2 separate regions of the Homo sapiens genome follow, and region 2 is linked to region 1. Evidence: fine-mapped expression QTL. Tissue or cell type: whole blood. Region 1 holds a variant in brackets; the other region holds the start of a gene. All regions are shown on one strand. Distances are from middle to middle.

The links. PIP is the estimated chance that this variant, and not a neighbour inherited with it, causes the effect.
Region 2: it holds the start of NCOA1, and the variant in region 1 is fine-mapped to the expression of NCOA1 in whole blood (TOPMed, PIP above 0.99).

The regions. Positions count from the first base shown.
Region 1 is chr2:24,826,605-24,834,708 of GRCh38, reverse strand. ADCY3 (adenylate cyclase 3) reads left to right here. Exons shown (of 22, transcript NM_004036.5): 11 at 63-224; 12 at 2,960-3,047; 13 at 3,884-4,000; 14 at 6,548-6,807; 15 at 7,101-7,163. It overlaps LOC105377626 (a long non-coding RNA gene), which reads left to right and starts at 243. Exons shown (of 2, transcript XR_939842.3): 1 at 243-967; 2 at 2,349-2,629. RefSeq lists enhancers at 1-110, 111-1,035 and a silencer at 1,215-1,509. The variant A/G (reference allele first, on the strand shown) is at 3,750.
Region 2 is chr2:24,487,158-24,495,261 of GRCh38, reverse strand. It overlaps NCOA1 (nuclear receptor coactivator 1), which reads right to left and starts at 4,008. Exons shown (of 23, transcript NM_003743.5): 1 at 3,660-4,008. RefSeq lists silencers at 3,236-3,725, 3,880-4,038, 4,016-4,355.

The DNA.
Region 1 (8,104 bases):
CCCCCCTGCTAGGCCAAGGCAGATGTGGCATTTGGGATTCATGGGGCTTGTTCCCACTGCAGAGTAAAGAAGAGAAACACCTTCCTCTTGTCCATGCGGTTCATGGACCCCGAGATGGAAACCCGCTACTCGGTGGAGAAGGAGAAGCAGAGTGGGGCTGCCTTCAGCTGCTCCTGCGTCGTCCTGCTCTGCACGGCCCTGGTCGAGATACTCATCGACCCCTGGTGAGGGAGGGGCCGGGGAGGGCCACGAGTTTCCTCGGCTGCGGTGGTGCCGGGCGGGGGGCGGGGGCAGGTGTCTCAGCGGGAGCCTGACATTGGGGAGCAAGCCAGTCTCTGCTCCCTGACCCCCACTGGGACGGCCCCCACAGGCCCCAGGAGTGCTAGACGGCACCCTGGGCATCCTTCCTTTTCCCTGCCCCGCGTTTTGGAGCAGTCCTAGCGTCAGAATGGGGATCTGGCCAGGATCAAGAGAGCTGAGGGACAGAGGCCTCCAGAAGGCTGGAGACCTTGGCTAGATGGGCCCACACTGATTCTTGGGACAAAGATGGGGACACTGCGTCAGTCTCAGTCACCAAGGCTGACCTGGCCCCTCTCTTGGCTCATCTTGGTAAAGATAGATTTTAGGCTGTGGGCACAGACTGACGCCCTCTCTAACGCAGCAGTAGGTCCTCCAGGGCAAGGTGTGGCCTCCTGGAGTCCCCAGCTGGTGAAGCCCTGTCTGAGGGTGACGACCACTCTCTTGTTCTCCCTTTCTCCCCTCGGCCAATCGGGGATTCCCCGTCACAGAGGAGGGGTCTGGAACCCTGCTGGGATTACAGTTTGTCAGGAGCCTTGGGCTGGGTCACACTATCTAAGGTTGCGGGTGTGTGACCACGTGCAGGCCACTGCAGGCTCCGGCAGCATCTGTTTCCTCATCTGTGAAATGAGGAGAACAACCCCTGCCCTAGCGGACACTCACGACTGTGGTGAGGCTCAAATTCACTCATTCCATAAGTATTGATTGGTTGTCTGCTTCATGCGTGGGGATCAAGGGCTGGGGCTATGGCAGCGATGCGGCACACAGAAACCCCTGCTCTCGTGAAACTTGGGTTCTGGTAGGGGAAGCTACAGGCAAAAGCAATTAAACAATTAAAATATGCATCCATGCGAGAGTAAGTACTGCAGACACAGGGAAGGCAAGGAAGGGAGGCGGGTATGCTGCTGGGGAGCTTTGTTTTGTTTTGTTTGCATTTTGATGTGGGATGGTCAGAGCAGGACTTGCTGGCAGGATAATATTTCAGTAACGCCTGGAAGCGGGTGAGGGGCGAGCCTTCTCCTATCTGGGGGACACCTGCTTCGGATAGAGGTGCTGAGGCTGGAGTGGCCTGGCCCCTGGAGGCACAGTGAGGAGGCATCGCATTGGGAACGGGCCACAGGAAGAGTAGCAGGAGTCCAGCACAGACGTGGGGCCTCCTACACGCCACTGCAGGGTGCCAGCTTCCACTCTTAACACAGGAGGCCGCCAGAACAAGGGAGCAGAGGAGTCCCCTGTTGTGACATATGCCTGGAGAGGCTCACTCCTGCTGAGAACAGCGCTTAGTGAGCACAGCGGGAGCAGTGAGACCAAATAGCGGCCCAGACAAGCCACTGTGGTGGCCAGGCCAGGCCGAGGATAGAGGAGGATCAGTGGTTGGATTCCGTCGATAGATGCTGAATGTATTTTGGAGACAGAGCTGACAGGATTTGCTGGCAGATTGGTTGTGGGGCGTGAGTGTGGAGTTGAGGATGTCTCCTGGGCTTCTGATCTGAGCAACTGGCAGGACGGGGGTGCCGTTAACCAAGATGGGGACAAGGTGGAAAGATGAGAGTGGAGAGGCAAAGATCAGGAGTTTGCTTTGGGACACGTGAAGTTTGCAGTGCCCACAAGCCAAGGAGGCCAGCATCCATGATCTGGAGTTTGGAGGGCGGGTGGGGTTGGAGACGTGAACCTGGCATCACCAGCATGCAGGCTGTGCTGCAACACGAGACTTGCTGAGCTCAAGGCAGCGTGTCCAGATGCAGAGACAGAAAAGGACTCAAGAAACCAAGCGAGAAAAGTGTCTCAAGGAGGGGTGAGAGGTGACTGAAAATGGGACATGGATTTAGCTACCAGGAGGCTTCTGGGGCTCTTGGCAAGGACACCTTCCAGGGAGGGGTTAAACGGGAATGGGTGTGAGCAGAGGGTATAGAGAACAGGTTTCCGGGAGTTGTCAGGTTAAGGTGGATGTGTTGAGTGTGTCCACTGTGAAGCTGGGGGTGGCTGTCACAGGCAGACTCTTAGCCCCCGGCAGCGAGGGAGTGATGCTGCTCCGTGCTCTGTCCTTTCAGCACAGCGACATGGCAGGGGTGCATTCCTAAGATCCCTGCCCAAGTTTATCCTGGGCTGTGCCCAGGCCACCTGTGAGTTGTTCCCTCTCTGGGAAATGTCCCAGGCAGCAGCTGCAGCTGGAGAGTGGCCCGCTCCCAGGCCGGCACTCAGCTGGCGGCCCGTCTCATCAGGGCCTTTGTCCTGTTCTGCACGGCAGGCAGCAGCAATTCCCTGGCACCGCGTGGAGCTGTACAGGCTCGTGCTGTGCTGAGAGGCCTCCCCGTCCCCTGCCCCCGGCCCCTGTCCCCTGCCCCCTGCCCCCTTCCCCCGGTCCTTGTCTGCTGGCCCCTGCCCCCGGTCCCTGTCTGCTGGCCCCTGCCCCCGGCCCCTGCCCCCAGTCCCTGTCCGCTGCCCCCTGGCCCCTGCCCCTGTCTGCTGTCCCCTGGCCACTGTCCGCTGTCCCCTGGCCCCTGTCCGCTGTCCCCTGCCCCCTGGCCCCTGTCCACTGTCCCCTGCCCCCTGTCCGCTGTCCCCTGGCCCCTGCCCCCATCCCCGTCCCTTCCTCTCCTAGCCCCTCACCCCATCTCACTGTCCCCTCTGGCCTCTCCCAATTGTCTTCTCTCTGTCACAGGCTAATGACAAACTATGTGACCTTCATGGTGGGGGAGATTCTGCTCCTCATCCTGACCATCTGCTCCCTGGCTGCCATCTTTCCCCGGGTAAGAGGCACTTTTCTACTGAGCTCAGAAGCCTCTGGAAGTGAGTGGCACTCCCTGTAAAACTGGGCAGTGATGGAGTTATTCTTTCTGTCAAATCTGACAGGCAGACACTCCTCTGTTAGGACGGTCCAGGCACTTGCCCATCCATTCATTCACCATCAGCAGAGCACTCCCTCTGGCTGGGCCACCAGGCTGTGGCAGGCTGTGGTGGGCCACGGCTGGGCCGTGGTGGGCCTTGTTGGGCCGTGGCGCTGCAGCACGTATGAGTACGGCAGAGTCTGGGTAAACAAGAACCTGGGTAGAGAGGAAGTGGAGGGCCGGCTGGAAGGTGGGTTGGCCCCGATGGTGAAGGCCCTTAGAAGCCAGACTAAAGGGATTAAAACTTTCTCCTGTAAGGCACTGAGGTACCAAGCAGAGTTTTTTTTTTTTTTAATCAGAATGACAAAGGTAAAGCAGTGTTTAGGAACATAAATCTGACAGGTGGCTCGCCAGGTCACTTGGAGCCAGGATAGGCAGGAGTAGCTGGCCAGAGACGAGCAGCCCTGAAAACTGTTCCTGCCCTGGCCTCACCTCGTCACCACGTCTGCTGTGGAAAGGGCTGCGACCTGGAGGCTGTGCTGTTGAACAGGCACATCGAGGAGGTCCAACACAGCGTCAGAACTCCCACGCCCTCTTCTCAGCTCTGCCCCTTGGTCAGCTGTC[A/G]GGTGACTCCCAGGCAGAGTCCGTTTTGAGGCTCCTGGGACTGGAATACGGGACCAGCCTGAGTTGCTGTCAGTCACGTCGCAGGAGAAAGGACTGGCAAAGGCTCATGGCCCTTGAAATTCTGTTCCTTCTAGGCCTTTCCTAAGAAGCTTGTGGCCTTCTCAACTTGGATTGACCGGACCCGCTGGGCCAGGAACACCTGGGCCATGCTCGCCATCTTCATCCTGGTGATGGCAAATGTCGTGGACATGGTGAGCTCCTGCTGTCCTTGTTGAAGGGACGCCCCTGTTCTCAGTGGAGAAGGGCTTCTGTTTGGGTCACACAAGCAGTTTCTCAGTCCATCCCTCCACCGTCATGTAGCTTTGGAGTGGCTCTTAGGTTCCCAAACACATCATCCCCACCTAGTGGAAGGAGTCTTGTCCCTGTCATCCAGGGAGCCTCTGGGATGGACTTGTTTCCTTGAAGCTCCTCTCCCAGAGTCCGAGAGCACAGTTCCATGTGCCCAGGCCTGTGCTAGGTACCTTATGTATGTTGATTCATTTAATCTGTGAAAAAGTCCTGAGCAGTTGTACCAGTATCTGCAGTTTCATAGGGAGAAACTAACTCTCAAAAAGGGTAATTGGTTGGGCGCGGTAGCTCACGCCTGTAATCCCAGCACTTTGGGAGGCCAAGGTGGGCGGATCACGAGGTCAGGAGTTCGAAACCAGCCTGGCCAACATGGTGAAACCCCATCTGTACTAAAAATACAAAAATTAGCCAGGCATGGTGGTGCACACCTGTAATCCCAGCTACTTGGGAGGCTGAAGCAGGAGAATCGCTTGAACCCAGGAGGCGGAGGTTGCAGTGAGCCGAGATTGAGCCGCTGCACTCCAGCCTAGGCGACAGCAAGACTCCGTCTCAAAAAAAAAAAAAAAAGGTAATTCACTTGCTCTAGGTCACACAGCCAGGAAGTGACAGAGTCCAGAATGGAGGCAGTTCTAAGTCCCAGTCCTGTGTATTCTTCCTCCCTGAGGGGGCAGCCAAATGCTTTCTTGGGGAAAAGGGACAGGAGTTGGGAGCCCAGATCTATTGGTTTAGAACCACTGGGCACGTATTGAGCACTACATGCCTGGAGCTGTCATCAGTGTTCTCTTGTCAGTTGTCACGGCCTCCTCTAATTGTGGTAGTACCATATACACTATCTTCCTTTTTTTTCAAATATAATGTTATTGTTGTACTTTAACAATTGGAGCACACGGTGCCGGGCGCAGTGGCTCACGCCTGTAATCCCAGCACTTTGGGAGGCCAAGGCGGGCGGATCACGAGGTCAGGAGATCGAAATCATCCTGGCTAACACAGTTGAAACCCCGTCTCTACTAAAAATACAAAAAAATTAGCCGGGCGTGGTGGCAGGCGCCTGTAGTCCCAGCTACTCAGGAGGCTGAGGCAGGAGAATGGCGTGAACCCGGGAGGTGGAGCTTGCAGTGAGCCGAGATTGTGCACTGCACTCCAGCCTGGCAACAGAGTGAGACTTTGTCTCAAAAAAAAAAAAAAAAAAAAAAAAAAAATTGGAGCACACAAATACAACCAACATGGAGACTTATTCTGCCAGTGGTATAAGTGAAAAAGCTCCAGGGCTGCAGCTAATCAGAAGTCCAGTGGGGGGCCGGGCGCGGTGGCTCACACTTGTAATTCCAGCACTTTGGGAGGCTGAGGCAGGCAGATCACTTGAGGTCAGGAGTTTGAGACCAGCCTGGCCAAGATGGTGAAACCCCGTCTCTACTAAAAATACAAAAATTAGCCAGCCACAATGGCACGAGCCTGTAATTCCAGCTACTTGGGCAGCTGAGGCAGGAGAATCGCTTGAACCTGGGAGGTGGAGGTTGCAGTGAGCCAAGAATGCACCACTGCACGCCAGTCTGGGCGACAGAGCGAGACTCCATCTCAAAAAAAAAAAAGAAAAAAAAGAATAAGTCTACTGGGAATGAGGAGTTAGGGGCTCCAGAGCCTACCTTGGCCAGGGGTTGCTGGTGCCCACTACCCAGGGAAGAGAAGCCCCAGGCCCCCTGCATGTCACAACATGCCTGGAACCTGGCACCCAGGTGTGGAGGTCACCACTGCATGGGGTCCTGGACACTGTACAGGACACCTGGAGATGCTGTCACTCATGGAGGGGTAAAAAGCTAGGGAGGTGTAACAACTGCTCATGCTAGAATGACATGGCGGGAATCGCGCAAGCAAGACAAGGTTGCCCTGTGGGTGAAAGTTACAAAAAGGGGGGGTTGATTCCGGTTCTGGATGCGCTTTCTCCCGGCCGCATCTGCCCAGTAGCAGAACCAGTAAAGAATCCAGAAGGCAGTGAACATCCCCCCAATGGAAGGATTTGGGCAGAGACTAGCTGTCATCACGGGGAGGCTGTGAGTGGGGCTCATGGTCCCGTGGCCCCTCCTGAAGCAACAGTGTGATATGGGGAAGAACATGTTGGATTTGAAGCCTAAAGACTTGGCTCCTACTTTTGGCTTTTCTGCTTGCTAATTGTGTTTGGGCAAATCTGGCCCGAGTTTTCTGTACAATAGGGACAGTACTAAAAATACTCGAGAGAGTTTTTGTGAATGTCAAATGAGGCAACGGCGAGGCTCTTAGCTGCAGTTACTAACTTTCATATGATTAGTCCCTGGTAAATTTCCCCATCTTTCCCGGTATTTCTGGGGGAGCCGCGGGAGGTGGCAGCTGAGCGTGCACTACCATGCACAGCCCTCTGTGACCAGCACCTGCTGTTCTCTTGAACGTGTGTCCCTGCCCGCCGTCCTGGCCTCCAGCTCAGCTGTCTCCAGTACTACACGGGACCCAGCAATGCAACGGCAGGGATGGAAACGGAGGGCAGCTGCCTGGAGAACCCCAAGTATTACAACTATGTGGCCGTGCTGTCCCTCATCGCCACCATCATGCTGGTGCAGGTCAGCCACATGGTGAAGCTCACGCTCATGCTGCTCGTCGCAGGCGCCGTGGCCACCATCAACCTCTATGCCTGGCGTCCCGTCTTTGATGAATACGACCACAAGCGTTTTCGGGAGCACGAGTAAGATGAAGCGTGACTGGGGATCTGTATTGTCTCCTTCCTCCCGCCCGCAAAGTCCTCAGTTCAAGCTCATGGGCCTGTGCTGAGGTGGCTTTCTGCCACTAGGGGTCCTCAAAGGCTTGTTCAAGAACCAGTTCCTGGCTGCTCACAGACGTATCACTGTTTGGCTAGGACCTGAGAATAGATTCTTCCCATTCTCCCCGAGTGGAGGACTTGGGATACCCCGGTGCCTGGCTGGGCATCAGGCTCTTGTTCCCAGATGGGGCCTGACTGTGCTGTTATCTGTCCAACAGCTTACCTATGGTGGCCTTAGAGCAGATGCAAGGATTCAACCCTGGGCTCAATGGCACTGACAGGTAAGGGCCACGGCTTCCCCTCCTGGCCTGCACTCACAGCCCTTCTTCTAGAGACAGGAATATAACAGGCCCAAGCCCCGGGATCTCACCCTCCCGGGAGGCACGTGACCTGATACGTGCAGGTTAGAGAAGCTGGCATGGGTTCCTCCAGGAGGGCTGCAGCAGTGCAGTGAGGAGGGAAGGAAATACCAGGTGGATGGCAGCTGCATGTAACTGGCTGGCAGGACAGACAGGCAGCAGGAAAATGAGGAGGGAGGAAGACGCTTTGGATTTGGACCTGGCTTCTGAGCCTGCAGCAGGCAGTAATTCTCTGTGGGTCACAGGCAGGTCCGTTTCCATGAGTTGCAATTTCATCTCTTGAGGAGGATACTGAACCAGAAGTTCTCTAAGGTCCCTGCCAGTGCCAAGGTTTTAAAATTTTATGATTCCATGACTTGAACAGACCTTCAAGGAAGTTTAGAAATAAAAAGATGACCTAATAGAAGAGGGGTAAAACCTGCATAGCCCTTAGCAAAAGAAGAACTCTAAATGGCCACTAATAAATGGCACTCAAGTAATCAAGGAAATGCCAGTTACACCCTAGTGAGATACCATCACACACGTACCGGTCCAGATAACTCTGACAATATCAAGTACAATAGTAACTCTTACACTCCTGGTGGGAGTATGAGTTAGTACAACCGTGTTAGAAAATATTTTGATCTATTTAGTAAGGTTGAAAATAAACCTGTGTCCCAGCAATTCCACTCCTACATACACACCCACGCAGACGTGTGTATATGTGTATATATATATATACACACATCTTAGAGAAATTCATGCACATACTCATGTCCCAGGATATATGTATGAGAATGTCCAAAGTGGCACTGTTCGTAATAGACATACCCCCTCCCCCAAAACAAATGAAAACAACCCAAATGACATCAACAGGAAATGGA
Region 2 (8,104 bases), 340 kb after region 1:
ATGGAATTGGACTTATATGTTGGTATCAGCGTTTTATAATAATTTCCCTTATTCAGCCATGTATCCTGCAGAAATATATAATAATCATTTCTATACATTAATCCAAATACTATAGCCCACAAACCATTTTCCAGAACTAAGCTATTAAAAAAAAAAAACAAAAAAAAAACACCTTCATCTCCTTATGAAATGAAGCAACCAACATTGGTACCTAGTTGCCACTAGGCCATTTTATGACCTCTGACACCAAATGTTGAAAGGCACAAGGTCTAACTAAAATATAAAGAGAAAAGGAAAGGTTTTAAATGACTAGACCTCATCTTCAATGTTAAGAATAGAACATGAGGCCTATCCTTAGTTGCCAATCACCAACGGCTAAACTACTGCTAATCTGGGAAAGAAGCAATTTTAAAAAGTCCTTTCCTACAGTCTAGTCTTCCCAAATGGGTAGGAAAGTTAATCTAAGATAGGGAGAAATTTATACGGTTCTGCAGCCCAGATCAGATACAGTGTTCTGACATCCACCTCCTGAAACACATGGATTTCACCCGAGCCCACACCGACCACAGCATCCAATATTTGCAAGTAATGCAAAATGGAACCCTCCAAAACATTTTTGGACCTCTGCCAGGAAAGCAGCTGATGGTCCTCTGAGAATTTCTGTTATAATCATATTTAAAAGGCAAAAACCAATGCCAAAACAATCATGAGCGTCCCGGGGATCTCCTATGCTCCATGACTTAGATTTTACTCCGTGTTGTGCGTTGTATTGACCTCCCACACCTGCCCTATAATGAAAACTATGTTAAGCCACATGGCTTAAGGCCAGCCAACTCCATAAGATATGCAACATAACATTCAAACAATGTGGAGTCCTTGGGAGACGCAGCAAAAAAGACAAACTAAAGTACGGAACAGAGGTAGTATCTAAGAGGAGGTATATGAAATTGATGACAACCAAGCAGGGAGAACTAAAACATCCTTGAAAAACAATTATAAATCACAGTCTAGTATACAGATTCCCTATACAGAATTGGGGAAAAGAATTTCAAGAAAATGCCCAATACCCTCTCTCCACCACTCCACCTTTCAGCACCTCTATACCACCCTCATCACTTACTCAACATTTAGTCCTAGTGAAGACCGCTCACTGGATTAGCAGGATCAAGAAGACATGCACAGAACATTCCATTCTGAGAACAACATCTTTAAATTATTTAGGCTTGTTTACCACCCTTCCCTATAGAGTAAAAGCATGAAATGTTGCCAGCACTTTCACAATATACACCAGTTAGCACCATAGCAACCCAATCTTCTGCCCACCAAAAGATTAACACATAAGCAGAAAACAGGAAATTCAACAAAAATTAAAGTTTGACCTTAGACTCCCTCAACAGTTAAATGTCTTAAGTAGTAGCAGTGTCTTTACATCACACCCGCTTCATGCTACCCTTACAGCTTCCTGGCATAAGCAAGTTCTTGGGATTATACAAACTGCTGCTTCTGTTTGCAGCCCAGATTTCTAGAAATGAAACCCTGGAATTGAGGGAGAAACAAAAACAAATGTTCGCAGAAAGAGGCAGGAAGAAGCATTGTCTATATAATCCTAGTTTAAGTGAAACAATCACCATTAGCTCCATCAAGCACTTTTTTTTTTTTTCCAATAAAACCACTGCAGATCTAAAATACTCTCTTGGTTTAAACCACACAAAAAGCAATTTAATAGGCACAATCCTACAGGTTTTCTGAGAGAAATAAGGAAGAGATCAAGTGTAAGCTACGTAAAATTCACGTTTTGCACCTTATAAAGCAAACTTCAATGTTGTTAAATAACCAGTAGAAAATATCTACAAAAATCAAACTAAACACCTGTTCTTATAAGCAGCAGTCCTCTATTTTCTCTCTAAACCATATATTCCCAACTCAGACCCTCTCTGTGACCCACTGTTCCCAAAGCATAGAGTCTGAAGAAGAAATATAAAACATTTCGGACATTCGTTCACAAAACCAAATTAGACCTTTCCACAAAGTACAGGAGATAAAACAGAAACACTTCCATTTTATCTAATTTATGGCAAATAGTTCAAGGAATGCCTATTTGTTAAGCTGAATCAAACCCCACTGCTACCTTTAACCCAAAACTATTTCTAGTTGAAGATCCAAGAGACCTAAGCAAATACTTTCTTTTCACATTATTCTCAACATGAAGAAATCCGACCCCCTTCCTACAACATCATAGGAGGCCCCTCTGGCCAACTTTCGTTGTTATTGTTGTTGTTTTGTTTGCTTTTTTTTTGAGACTAGCCTCCAACCAATTCCAGAAGAGGAGACAAACCTCAAACAAATTTAACCCTTGAGATCCATCCCTCAACTGTATCATATAATCTACGCTTCACGGCAGTAATGTTTTAAGCAGACACTTGATTTCTTAATCACTGAAATGTAAGCACCAGCCCTCACAAATCATCGCCACAGAGATTCCTCTTGGCATCCACAGAGGGTGCTGGGACTGCAATTCACTCAAGAACCCTTTACTCACCAACATCACACTCGACATTAAAAACTCACCGTCTCCGAAGAAAAAATGTCACCTTCTGCACAAGGACACCTGCCTGTTCAACACCTCTACAAGAAACGAGGAGGGCCAAGCATGAGAGGCTAACAGATCCTCCAGCTTAAAGTTTTCCTCCCCATGAAACTCTCCGGACACAACACCGTGGCCTGTCCTTGTCACACACACACAGGCTGTATTGTCAACCCCTCCGTCTCCCTCTAACGTCGTCAGACTGGGCAGTGTCTACCCATGGGGGTAACTGCTTTTAAATAAAATAAAAAAGCAGCCACCACAGCTGGGTAGTAAGGACTGGAGACCCTGGGTGTCCGATTTTTTCAGGTCTTTTACAAGGGACTAGAGAGCGGCCCGAATTCTGTCACTGCCCACTAACCAACCCCACCTCCCAATCGCCTCGTCAACATGTTTGCTTCCCTTCCTCGGCCCTTTCGGCTGAATCCCAGGAAGGGGACCAAACCCGGGCCGCGACAGGAACATGTCCAGTATCCATCCCATGTCTACCTCCGAAACCCCTTCTCGGGAGAAGGGGCGAGCAAGCGCGCCGGGGTCAAACCCAAGCGCCGTCGAGGGCTGCGCCGACGGAGAGGGACGCCGCGGTCGCCCCCATTTCGCGGTCCCGGCAGGCGAGATTCCGAGAGGTGAGCGGGCCGGCCAAGGTCACGGCGTCGTCGGGGCCGAGGGGCGCCCGCGCCGACTTCCGGCTCCCCCTCTCGGCGGCGGCCCGGGGCGCCCGCTCCCCACGCCGGGCAGGCGGCCGCGCAGCTCGCACCCCCTCCGCGGATGCTCGCCCTCTCCGCGCTAACTAGGGCAACTGGAAAAGAGGCGGAGAGAAGTCGCTGCTGCAGCGATTTCCCCCGGCGGGGAGCAGCCCCCAGCTGGTGCCCGTGACAGCTGCGACCTCCGCCCCCTCCAGCCGCGCCGGGCCGCGAGGGGAACTCGGGGAAGTGGGAGGAGGATGGAGCGGGAGAAAGGAGAGCAGGGGGCGGAGGGGCGCCAGCTGCTCCCCGCCCCCTAGGGCCTCCGCGGCCGCGCGGCTCGTGACAGCTGCACCCACCGGGAGGCTCCGCACCCGCAGCCCGCCACTCACCTGCCGCCGCCGCCTCTGGGCCCCGCTCACCGGCGCCGCACTCGTCCGCGACCGTGGCGGCGGCGCCGCCCCGGCCTCCGCCGCTCCTCGGGCCCGGCGCCGCGGCTCTCCGGCCCCCTCCTCCGGAGCAGGGGTCCCCCCGCAGGGGGATGCAGAGGGAACCTGACGCAGGCTCCGCTCGAGGGAGCAGCAGCGAACAGGCGGCGGAGGCCCTCAAGGCCGCGAGGCAGCCGTCGGAGGACAGAGCTCAGCAAATCGCGTCAGACTCCCGCTCGCCCGGCCTGAAGAACAGGCATTTCAGCCGCTCTCCGCGGCCGCCATGTTCTCCTCCTCGGCCGCCACCGCCGCCGCCGCCACCGCCCCCCGCTCGCGGCACCGCCCCCTTCGCGCCCCGCCCCGCCCCGCCCGTTCCCGGCCGCCCGCCTGCCCGCCCGCCGCACTTCCCCTGCCGGCTCCGGCCGCCCGGGCCGCCGCGACCCGGTGCCCGCGAGCTCCGACAGTGCGCCCGGGACAGCGCGCCCCCAGCCCGCCGGGCCTGCCGGGCCCGCCGAGCGAGGAACCGCCCCGCGCCCTCTGCCGGCCCGCCCCAGCCGGCGTCCTAACGAAGTGTGGGAAAGGAGGCCCGAACTCTTCCCCGCCCGTCTCAACTCCTCCCCGCCCCTCTCCTGCCCTCCCCTCGGGGCGTTCCTCCCACTGCTGCCGGGAAGCGGCCTCGAACACCAGGGCGCTCGCAGCTAGGCCGCCGGGCCTGCCGCCTCCCGCTGTTCTTTATCTTTCTGGGAAGGTGTCGGAGCGGCGAGAGGCCCTGCGGACGGGGCGGAGTCGGCTCCGGGCCTGTCCCTCCACTCGGGCGTTCTGTTACTTTGAGCGAGACATATCCCGCGGGCCTCGTTTTTTATTCTGTAAAATTGGGAGGTGGTTGCCTAGATGATTTCACAGGCTATTAGACAAGAGAAAAGGAAGATCGTCTGCCCCCTTCGTTTTACAGATGAAAAGATCTGCCTGACCCGTTCTGGCTCTGCAATTCCATGAATTATCTAAAATGTCTGTCATTCACAGATCTTTCCCCTCAAGGGGCCCACACCTTTCTTCTTATCTCCCTTTTCTTTTTTTTTTTTTTTTAACTTCTCTAATAGAAGTGCTACTTCCAAAAGTAGAGTGTTCTTGTCACCAGAGGAATCGAACAGCGGCTGAACAGCCTCTCTGAGCTGCGATGGCCTTATCTGGACCGCATCCCGCATTCCAAAGGCTGGCAATGCAATATATACCTATGTCTCTCCCTGGGTTGTCCTAAGCATGAATGAGTCACTCGCCGTGGAAGTGCCTTGTAAAGCATACATCTGTCCATTCCTTTCTTTTATTCTTACCCCATTTCGCACTCTTACCCTTCCTCAATCCTGTCCTGCTGCTGCTGTCTCCCGGCGTTTCCTGCTGTTTCGCTTCCTGTGTGTTCTCCCCTAAATCAATCTCTGTAAATCCTTAAGCCCTTCCCACCCTTCTCCCAACTGGGGAACCTGACAGCCTTGAAAACACCAATCTCCGTGGCAGCTCTCTGAGTCGACGGGCAGCTTCTTTCACAGGCAGGTACTACTGTATGCTTTCACCATCCTCTTCCTATCCTTGTCACGCTCATAAAGTAATCGCTAGACCACACCCCCACATGCATTCATATATTCATTCATTTATATATTCATTCCCCTGATTCTTATCGGAGACCTACTACTGGGGCCCTAGGTGCATCTCCTGAGCTCTGGCTTAGCAGTACCTCTAGCCACCCGCAGAGTCCCTATCCCCAATAATAGCTGAAAATACCCGGGCACTCATGAGTTTCGTCCCCTAATGTAGGGCCTACTTCCCAATCTAGTCCAATGCAGACTGTGTGAAAGTGCCTTGTTCTAGCCTCTGGTGCCAACAAATGAGCCACTTGTGCAAGGTACTCCTGTCTCCACTAGACTCTAGTAAGTGCTGAAGGCCAAATCTAGTGGCCACTTCAGTCCTACTGTCGTGTGGCCTTTCTACAGCACGTGATACTGCTAACTCCTCCTTTTTGAAACTCTCCTCCCTTGTCTTCAATATGAGTCTCTCTACCTGATTTCTGAACTTGCCTTCGTTTGCACTTTTCTTGGGCTGCTCCTTTTTTACGGGGCCATAAAAAATGTTGGTATCCTCAAGGTTTTATTTTTTTCCTTCCTTTCCTCTGGCTTCGGTTGACTGTTTATTTCCACAGCTTCAACTGTTAACAAAACAACTCCTGAATTTCCTTCTTCCAATCTCCCACTCTGCAGCCCGGGGTCGTAATTAACTTTAAAATATCCTCAAGACACACAGTGCTAAGATTTTGTTGAATGACAAATTATTTAGGTGTTAATTTATATTGCCATAACCATCCATGTATGCTAAAGAGAGAGTTCTTTTCTAGAATGGTACTGTTTCTTTTTTGTTGTTGTTGAAACAGAGTCTCGCTCTTGTCGCCCAGGCTGGAGTGCAGTGGCGCGATCTCAGCTCACTGCAGCCTCTGCCTCCTGGGTTCAAGTGATTCTCCTGCCTCAGCCTCCCGAGTAGCTGGGATTACAGGCACCCGCCACCACGCCCGGCTAATTTTTTGTATTTTTAGTAGAGACAGGGTTTCGCCGTGTTGGCCAGGCTGGTCTTGAACTCCTGACCTCAGGTTATCCACCAGCCTCGGCCTCCCAAAGTGCTGGGATTACAGTCATGAGCCACTGCGCCTGGTAATGTTTCTTAAATAATAACTCTTTGACTTTTTTCTCCTTCCTCTACAAGTCATAATCACTTGTCAAAGCAGTTATAACACCCTTTTATGTCTCCAATTGGTAATCTTTTCTCTGGTCATACTCAACTTCTCTCAGACTCCATCTACTTTTACTAAACAGGCCCATTTTACTAATCCACCCGAGCAACCCTAAATATAGGGCCAAAAGATTCATTAGATTTACTTCGTGACTGTACAAGTAGCCTCTCTAAAATCCATTTACCTTAGCTATTTAAAATTTATTTACTCCCAAAATACAATGCCAATCAACAAGGAAGACTAACTCCAATTAAATGAAAATGCTTTGAAGATATTTATAAATAAAAATGTAAGACAACATTTAACTCTTATAGCCCAGATAGAACTGGTTTTAGTCCAAACCCTATTGTTTCCATAAATTAATATAATCCTTTGGTGGACTAGAAACAGCCTAGTTCTACGGGCAAAATCTAGAACATACCTGTTGGATTTTCTCCAGAGCATAATAGATTTCCAGTTCTATAAAATATATGGCTAGTGTGCATGAAATTACTCCAGTTACTGAGGCAAGAATTGATTTAACTTTGACATTCTTTTTTTCAAATAGTTTTTTGTTTTATAATAATTGATACAGACTCACAAAATATTCAGTCAATAAAGAACAGCACAAAAAGTTTAAAAATAAACTTTTTCAAGCCAGAGAGAAACATAGTAAACATGTTTCCACACCTTTCTCTATATATATTTGCACATATAAATACACTATATGTAGTCAATTTTACATAAAAATAAAATCACGCCTGTAATCCCAGCACTTTGGGAGGCCGAGACAGGCGAATCACCTGAGGTCAGGAGTTCAAGACCAGCCTGGCCAACATTGTGAAACTCTGTCTCTACTCAGTGTGGTGGTGGGTGCCTGTAATCCCAGCTACTCAGGAGGCTGAGGCAGGAGAATCATTTGAACCCAGGAGGCAGAAGCTGCAGTGAGCCAAGATCGCCTCACTGCACTCCAGCCTGGGCAACAGAGTGAGACTCCATCTCAAAAAAATAAAATAAATAAAATAAAATCACATGATAAATGCTCATCAGTAATCTGGTGCCTTTTACTGTACAATGTATTTTCATCCTAATAGTTAAATACTCTTGCATTGTGTATCTGTTTAGCCATTTAATTCCTTACTAAAAATGTTTACATTGTCTGTATTTTTGTTTGTATATTTTTGTAAATCATGCTGTAATTCTAATGCATGCCTCCGTGCAGTTTAGAAATTATTTTCTTTAAATTTCTAGAAGATTAATTGTTGGCTCAAAGGGTACATGTTAATTTTTTTACTACATTATTTACCAAACTGGCCTCCAGAAAATTGTTTCAATCTGTGGTCCTAGCCATAGTGCATGAGCCTGCCACTTGCCCATAACCAGCTCTGTATTTTACCCATTTCACTTTGAATAATCTTTAATTTCTACATCTGCTTAAAGGATAGAGGTTAAGAAGACTAGGTTTAGAGTTAGGGAGACCCAGGTTTGAAATGGGTTTGTCACTTACTAGCTGTATGAAACCTGGGCCAAACCACTTCAACATCTCCAAGACTCAGTGTCCCCATCTGTAAAATAGGATGCTAGCACTTGCCTCAAAGGATTGTTGCTAAGATTAAATGAAATAATGTATGTAAAGCACTCAATACAGTATTTGACA